Homo sapiens: one gene and its partner. The protein of the gene in region 1 purifies or fractionates together with the protein of each later gene. This does not show direct contact. Each region holds a gene or a part of one and is shown in the gene's direction. Other genes may lie near its edges.

Evidence for each region.
Region 2: the proteins of ZDHHC21 (region 1) and URM1 purify together in Homo sapiens (affinity purification with mass spectrometry; one large-scale study listed by BioGRID and IntAct). This does not show direct contact.

The regions. Positions count from the first base shown.
Region 1 is NC_000009.12:14,658,933-14,662,432, reverse strand, and holds part of ZDHHC21 (palmitoyltransferase ZDHHC21), read left to right. Parts: intron 1-106; coding exon 107-218; intron 219-3,500. UniProt on the Homo sapiens protein: Palmitoyltransferase that catalyzes the addition of palmitate onto various protein substrates. Palmitoylates sex steroid hormone receptors, including ESR1, PGR and AR, thereby regulating their targeting to the plasma membrane.
Region 2 is NC_000009.12:128,369,878-128,374,173, forward strand, and holds the start of URM1 (ubiquitin-related modifier 1), read left to right. Parts: upstream 1-1,496; 5' UTR 1,497-1,503; coding exon 1,504-1,538; intron 1,539-4,296. UniProt on the Homo sapiens protein: Acts as a sulfur carrier required for 2-thiolation of mcm(5)S(2)U at tRNA wobble positions of cytosolic tRNA(Lys), tRNA(Glu) and tRNA(Gln). Serves as sulfur donor in tRNA 2-thiolation reaction by being thiocarboxylated (-COSH) at its C-terminus by MOCS3.

The DNA.
Region 1 (3,500 bases):
GAGTTTTATGTTGAAGGCTTCCTATAAAATCTTCTAAACAACTGTTGGTAAATTTCAGCATTACCCACTTGCCTTCATTAAATGGATTTTAATTTCTTTTCTTTAGAAAGGGAGTTCTGGGAATTATGTAACAAGTGTAATTTGATGAGACCAAAGCGTTCCCATCACTGTAGCCGCTGCGGCCACTGTGTGAGGAGAATGGATCATCACTGTCCATGGTAAGAATAATTCACTTCTAGCAAAGAAAAGAGGGGTGGGTAATAAAATGTAAATCTTACAACTTGGCAGCTTTAAACAACAGTTATGTTAAAGTTATATAGTTTTACAATATCTTAATAAGGATATCTTTATTTAGATTATATGGTTCTGTCAACTCCCAAAGTCATTTTTCCACAGAAATCCTATCTTTTCTAACAGGGAGAGATTTGAGCCAAAAAAGTAAGAATTAACTGCAGCCTGATATACAAAAGGATTAAGGTGGTTGTATTAAATGAGGCAATGTATATAAAACATTTACTACAATATCTGACAAGTAGGATGTACTTAAATGGTAGCTATTTCTAATTGTAATAAACCATATGCATCCGAATGTTTATATCCCCTTTTCATTTGTTTAATTAATAACATTTCAGACACCCTGATAACCTCTTCCTTACCCCTTAAAGCTTTTTAAGCATTATGTATTGGATATAGCTACTACCATTATGTACTTGTTGGAAGTATGTGAGTGATAATTAGCTGATTCTGCAGAACTGCTAACAGTTTTGGTCAATAGGGGGCTCTCTTGTAATATTTAAAGAAAATGTTCAGTTGAGAAATATAATCTTCGAAAACAAATGCTGCGTGAATTCTGTATTGTATCTCATTTTAAAGCTGTCACAAAAATCTGTGAACAAGATATTGTATTTAATTCTGTTTTCTTAGCATTGGCTCTCTGTATAAATATTTAAACTGGTATAGTGTAGAATTTGACAAATGTATCTGTATACATATATGTAGTATTTATGTTTGTATACACATACATGCATATATGCAAATTTACATAATGAGCCTCTTAATTTATAATTGCTTTTATTTAAAATTGATGCAAGTGGAGTTTAGCTTTTTCTAATGTTAGTCTATTTAGAGTTTTCTTTATTTTTGATAACTTATTTTGATAGCACAGTTATTCAGCAAACTTCTGGTGGAAATTTGTTTTTTTGCATAGACTGTTTAAAAAGAAGATAATTTCCTGAAATAGGAAAAAGTAAGAGCATTTTCGATAAAAGCATTTTGTTACTACATAAAAATTTTAAAAATTTCTAAATCTGTCAACAAGATAGAGTAGTGTATGACATATAGTTGATATTCAAAACTGTGCCTTGAATTTAAACGTAAATAATTATTTGGGAATTACTTGGGAATAAAGATTAATTCCCAAGTAATTTTCTTAAGCTCAGTGATCTGTTTGCTCTCACAATAGTAATAGATTTTTAGAAAGCTACGTGAAACATGTATTCAGATAATTGCTGATCATACAGAAAAGCTCAGTTTTTAAGCGCTTCTTATTGTAGAGTTTCTTATTCACTAAAATACAAATGTTCATGATGGAAGTGGATATTGATGCTTTTTTTTTCAAACGAATGCAGTAGTAAGAAAGAACTAGGAAAGACTCACTTATTGGTGACCAAATAAGGTGCTATTTAACCTTAATTCTAACGTTGGGGTGATTTCTCTTTCTGGGCCTCTTGCTTCCATAGTTTTAGTCAACTTTTCAGAAGTTGGTAGCAGTGAGGGGGAAGTACAAAGGATTGGAGGATCAGAAAGGAGAGTAGACAAGGGACCTAAAGAGATTCAGGAATTTTTATCATTGAATTTCCTGATAGAGCACTGCTGAAATGTTCAGAGAGCAGGGGAAATGTACAGTGTAAATTGGAAGCAAGGAAAATTTTTGATGTTTTCAGAAATTGCACTACTTAACTGCCTAAGACATTTTTAGGTTTGGAGGTCAATTCTCACGTTGCCTCAAGGTTTTCTGTATTTGTGGCTCTGATCATTCTTTTTTTTTTTTTTTTTTTTTTGAGATGGAGTCTTACTCTGTTGCCCAGGCTGGAGTGCAGTGGCATGATCTCAACCTCTGCCTCACTGCAACCTCTGCCTCCTGGCCTCAAGTGATTCTCCTGCCTCAGCCTCCCGAGTAGCTGGGATTACAAGTGCATGCCACCATGCTTGGCTAATTTTTGTATTTTTAGCAGAGACGGGTTGTCACCATGTTGGCCAGGCTGGTCTCAAACTCCCAACCTCAGGTGATCTGCTCCCCTCGGCCTCCCAAAGTTCTGGGATTACAGGCTTGAGTCACCGCGCCTGGCCTGATCATTCTTTCTAAGTAGTGCAGATGTTACAAAAAGAACTCATATAGATTGAATACCTTAGTGCTTCTTAAAGCTGTTCTGGTTAAGAAGAATGCTGTGATCATAGACATTGTTTCTCAAACTTCCTGGGGACAGGAAAGATGGAACAATGATAAGTCATCTTTCAATCGGCAGCTGTTGAAGAGCACTTTTGAGTGTATATTAATACATAAGCACACTTCTCTTATAATCCTGCTTGCAAATAACAAAGCACAGTAGATTTTCTTGTTTACAAAACATGCACTCTTAAATCTTAAGAAATGCCTCTCTAAGGTTTTTCAGTTCAGGTCTGTATTTGACTTTAAAAAATGGTTTAATGACAAAGTTAAAAAGAGCGATTTAAGTTAGGACCGAAACCTGTTACATCGTTTCTTTTTCAGTGACAGTATAATACTATTTTGAAATGAAAACATTTGTGCAAAGTCATTTGTAGTCTTGAACTAGGGTTTTTTGCTGGAATTTTAGGATACTTTGACAATTTGGATACAATAAATTTGGAACAATAAAATATTCAGCTTAAATTAGCCTTGAAAATTTTTTATTGTAACATTAATCCTCTTTCCTAGTTAGGGTTCACTGTTGTATTGGTGGAAGTATAGCTGTGTGTATTTATAAATAGTTTTGAATACATTTTTATTTTCAGCAACCAGGGGTAGATTTTTAAAATGAAAAGTGAATGCTTAGCAGTTATGTCAGAGTGGTATGTTTCAGCTGGTTTACTTCAGGGCATTCAGATTGCTTTTCACAGCTAGAATGCCCTAAAGGAAGAGCAAAATACAGGGAAGCAGGGTTCTTGCTCTCTTGGCCCCTATGTCTTCTAACTCTACATCCTCTGGCCAGAGGCTTAGCTCCTTTGTTCCCTGTTTCCATATCAGTGACACAGGAGACTACCGTCTGCTCTTCCTGTCTCGCTGAGTTGTTATGAGTTGAAGGGGGATCACATATGTGGACTTCCTTTGTGAAGTGCTTTACAAATATAAGATGGTATATTTATAGTTTTCTCTGTATAGTTTGTTTTTACCTTCAAGTGGCCATAGCATATCTCCATGAAGTTAAGCATATGTGATATTATTTGTTTTTAATTTAGTCTTATTGATCCTGAGGTGAACT
Region 2 (4,296 bases), about 110 Mb from region 1:
GCTAGGATTACAGGCATAAGCCACTGTGCCTGGCCAACTTCATTCCATTTCTGCCCTGGGCTTTTTTTTTTTTTTGAGACAGAGTCTTGCTCTGTCACCAGGCTGGAGTGCAGTGGCTCGATGTCAGCTCACTGCAACCTCCACCTCCCGGGTTCCAGCGATTCTTCTGCCTCAGCCTCCCGAGTAGCTGGGACTACAGGCGCACGCCACCACATCCAGCTAATTTTTGTATTTTTTTAGTAAAGACAGGGTTTTGCCATGTTGGCCAGGATGGTCTTGATCTCTTGACCTCGTGATCCGCCTGCCTCGGCCTCCCAAATTGCTGGGATGACAGGCGTGAGCCGCCGCGCCCGGCCTGCCCTGAGCCGCCGCGCCCGGCCTGCCCTGAGCTTTTGCAACAGGCTCCAGTGGTCTCCGTGTCTCTTTCCTTATTCCCCTCAAATCATTCTCCATATTGCAGCCAGAAATTATATTTTAAAACACAATTCTAAAATGTCACTGTCTCCCAAAACCCTTCAGTAGTCTCCCACTGCTCCTAGAGACTGAAATGTTTACCTGCTTACAAGGCAGGGGTTGGCCCCTGAGCACCTTTGCAGCTCCCTCTCTAGATGGATGAAAGTCAGGCTCCCTAACTTCCACCTTCCTCTCCATGTTCCAGCATGTTCTCACCCAGAGCCTCTGGGCCTTTTGTCCTCCTCACTGGAATGCTCCTAGAGGTTTCTCTCCCCTCACAGCCACCTAGTTTACTCAGGTTTTAGAGCCCAGCAAGTCCAGTCTACTCAGTTTTCTTTTTGAAGTTCCTATAACTTCAGTTCCTTTATTTAAGTTTGAGGTTGTACATGTCTTAGTATGCTTATTTGATTACAGTTAGTCTCCCCGCTAGACTGTGAGTGCCCTAAAGGCAGGAACCTTGCCCATCCCCTTTACCACTAGCACCGATCAAAATGCCTGGCACAGGGAGGCGCAATGAACAGCTGTTGAACGAGTGACTTCCAAATCGACAGCAAAGGGGGCGGCTGGATAGCGAGTCGCCCGCTCAGGAGAGATTCTGGGTCGGAAATAAAGATCTGGGAGTCATTTATAATTCCAACCAGACGAGTAGATGGGCTGGCCCAAGCGGTGTGTAGACTGAAGAGATTCTAACTCATGCAAGATAAGCAGCTACGTGGCTCACGGTCACGTCGCAAAAAACCTGGGGGCTCTCCTCCGCCTGCTTGTGGTCCCGTACAAGGCGCTTCCCACCCTGGGTCTCTGAGCCCAGTCGGTGAAAGACGGAAGGAGACCGATTCACAGCCCCAACAGCGCCGGTGATAGTCCCTCTGCCACCCCTTTCCCTCCGCTGCCCTCCCCTCCCCTCCCCTCCCCTCGATGACTTCCTCCAACAGCTGACGAAGCTGGATCCCTGGGCACCGCCTCTTCCGTCCGCGGCACCCGGAGACGCCCGGAAATTTGCGGGCGCGCCGGAAGTTGAGGGGAGTTTCCTGCGAGCTCGGCTTCCTCAACATGGCTGCGCCCTTGTCAGTGGAGGTGGAGTTCGGGTGAGTCACAGAGCTGGGGCGCCGTGGGGATGGATTGAAGTCGTCGGGCCCAGAATTCCTTTCCTTCTGCCGTGGGGCCTGACACGGCCGAATCACTGGGTGTCCCAGTGCCCGCTGTGAGCTACGCTACCCGCCTAGGAGAGTCTGAGAGGCCAGTCTCTCTTGGCAGTGAGGCCGTCTGTCCGGAAATAGAGGCGCACATTGGGAGGGAAATGCTCTCTGTGTACCACTCGGTGCCCTGTGCTCCGCCGGAGTCGGAGGTCGTGACTGTTAGCAGGCAGCCTCTCTCTCTTCTTTTCCATTCCTATCTCGGACCAATCCCATCTGTTTGGCATCTGAGCTCCTAGAACCTAGAAGGACCACCCTCCACCCGCTGATTTCATTCTTTGGGCAGCAGTTTCTTTTTACACTGTTATTAAGGTCTTGTTTCTCGTGGGATGTAGTGGCCAGGGCGGGACTTTTTTCTTTTTCTTTCCTAAGACTTGGGGATGGTAAACAGACCTGAGCCTCCTTCAGGACAGTCAGTAAACTTGCTGATTGCCTTCTGCAGAACTGGAGTCAGGTGGAGACACGGGGACAAATAAGAAATCACACTGAAGGGAACTAACAGGGACAGTATAGTATACACAAGATGAAAAATGCAGAGATTGGGACACACACCAGTTACTGAAGAAACACAGAGCAGGGAGGAAGTCTACCCAAGGCACTATTTGTGCTTCCTACAAACAGGTTTGTCATATGGTTTCAAAGCTGAGGGAAACTGCAGAGCTTAGAGAGAAGGCAAAGAAACAGGCCTTGAAAGATGGGTGGTGTACTTTACAGTATCACGTGGAAAAGAGGAAATAGGTAGGGATGTGTGTGTGTGTGTGTGGAATAGGTAGGTGTGTGTGTGTGCCTGTGTGTGTGTAGATAAGCCAAGGTCTATGTGACAGGAAAAGTCTGGGATGGGAATCTAAAACCTCTGCCCAGTGCCTTTCTTCTCATTGGATGCCTCCCATTTCTTTCATGTTTTCCCTTAATTGGGTAGTTCATTCACCAGCCATTTATTGAGTGCCTACCATGTGCCGGGCAGCAAGCCAGACACTGAGGATACAAAGATAAATAGAAGTCTGTCCGTGCCCTACAGCGTTCAGCATTTCTGCCCCTTAGAAGGGGGGTAAGTCTCATGACTAAGTGCATTTTAATTGATATTGTCTGGCTGCTTGGATCCAATTAGAACTGTATTGGTCTGGACTCCTCACTGTTTTGCCTCACTGACCCTTGGCCCAGCTACACTCCCCAAAGCCTGGGATTCTAGGAGGATCCCTGCTTCCTTGACAGGCCTCAGCAGAGCTGGAAAGAGAGAAGCCACAGACTGCTGTGTTAAGATTTATCTGGGCCAGGCATGGAGGCTCATGCCTGTAATCCTAGTACTTTGGGAGGCTTGGGCAGGAGGACTGCTTGAGCCCAAGAATTCGAGACCAGCCTTGGCAACATGGGGAGACTTCATCTCTACCAAAAAAAAAAAAAAGAAGATTTATCTGCAGACAACTTGCCTTTCATCCTCATGAGTCAGACATGGTCTTTGTTTATCAACAATGTCTCTGCTAGGTACTGTGCTAGCTCAGTGGGGAAGTCATGTGAGGAAGATGGGGCCATTGCTCTCCAGAGCTTACAAACCAGCACAATTGCCCTTTTTCTGACCCAATCATCTCTAACTTCAGTCTCCCTTACCTCCAAGAGCAATAATGACCCCTGGCAAGGCAGGACAACATTCCTCCACCCACCCACCCACCCACCCACCTTCTATCACCTCCTGTCACAGCACAGCGTTCCATGAAAATTGCAGCATTCTCAGGAATGCCCAACATGATGCTCAACCCAGGTTCCTTCTCTCTTTGTCCTTGTGTTGATGCACGTTTTTGCCCTGACCTTTCTTTCATTTCCTATGTATCTTAGCAGACATGATTCACCCTTATCCAGAACTGGAGCAAATTTGCAAAGGCTAACACGCCCTTCATTTTCTCTCTTTTGTCCCTTAGTGGCCCCACTCCCACTCCAGTTCTGGAAGGGTCTCCCTCCTGAGCAGATGTAGTCCTCTTGGCCCCACCAGCTCCTCCAGAGACCCTCTGGAAGGCCTCTAACACCTTCCTTCTTGTCAGTGACCACGTCTGCCACCCTTTGTCTTCCCCCTGAATTGTTCTCAGCAGAGCGTTTTCTCAGGTCACGCAGGATTCAAAGTATGTAATATAGTTGTGTTTTGTGTCCCTGTGGTCCATGTTGTAAAGGCCCAGATATGGAGTTCTCTCCGTCCCACCCCTCTTCCTCCTTCCCAAGTTGGGGAGGTATTGGCAAAAGGAGGGAATGTCATTGAGGTCAGAGAAGAACTGGGAGAAATGGGCATTTCCTTTCCTTTAGCAGATATTTGTTGAGTGTCTACCATGTGCCAGGCCCTGTTTTAGGCAGAGCTTGCAGCCCAGCAGGTGGAGAGGAAGTAAATAAACAAAATATATATATACGTGTATATGTATGTGTATATACAGAAGATTAAAAGATGAAGATACATCAGAAAAGGTGAAGGTGGTTTTGAGAATATCTATACCTGTCACTGGTATCTACAAACACATCCACCAAGAATTGGGGGGGTTGAAGGAAGATGGAGATATGTCAGTTGAGTTTGAATAGCAGATCTTATAAGACATAAGAGAGTCTGGCCTTGGTCTCTCCTGGGCTAGAACAGGCCCCTTGTCTGCCTCCCTGAATCACTCTTGAGGCTGGG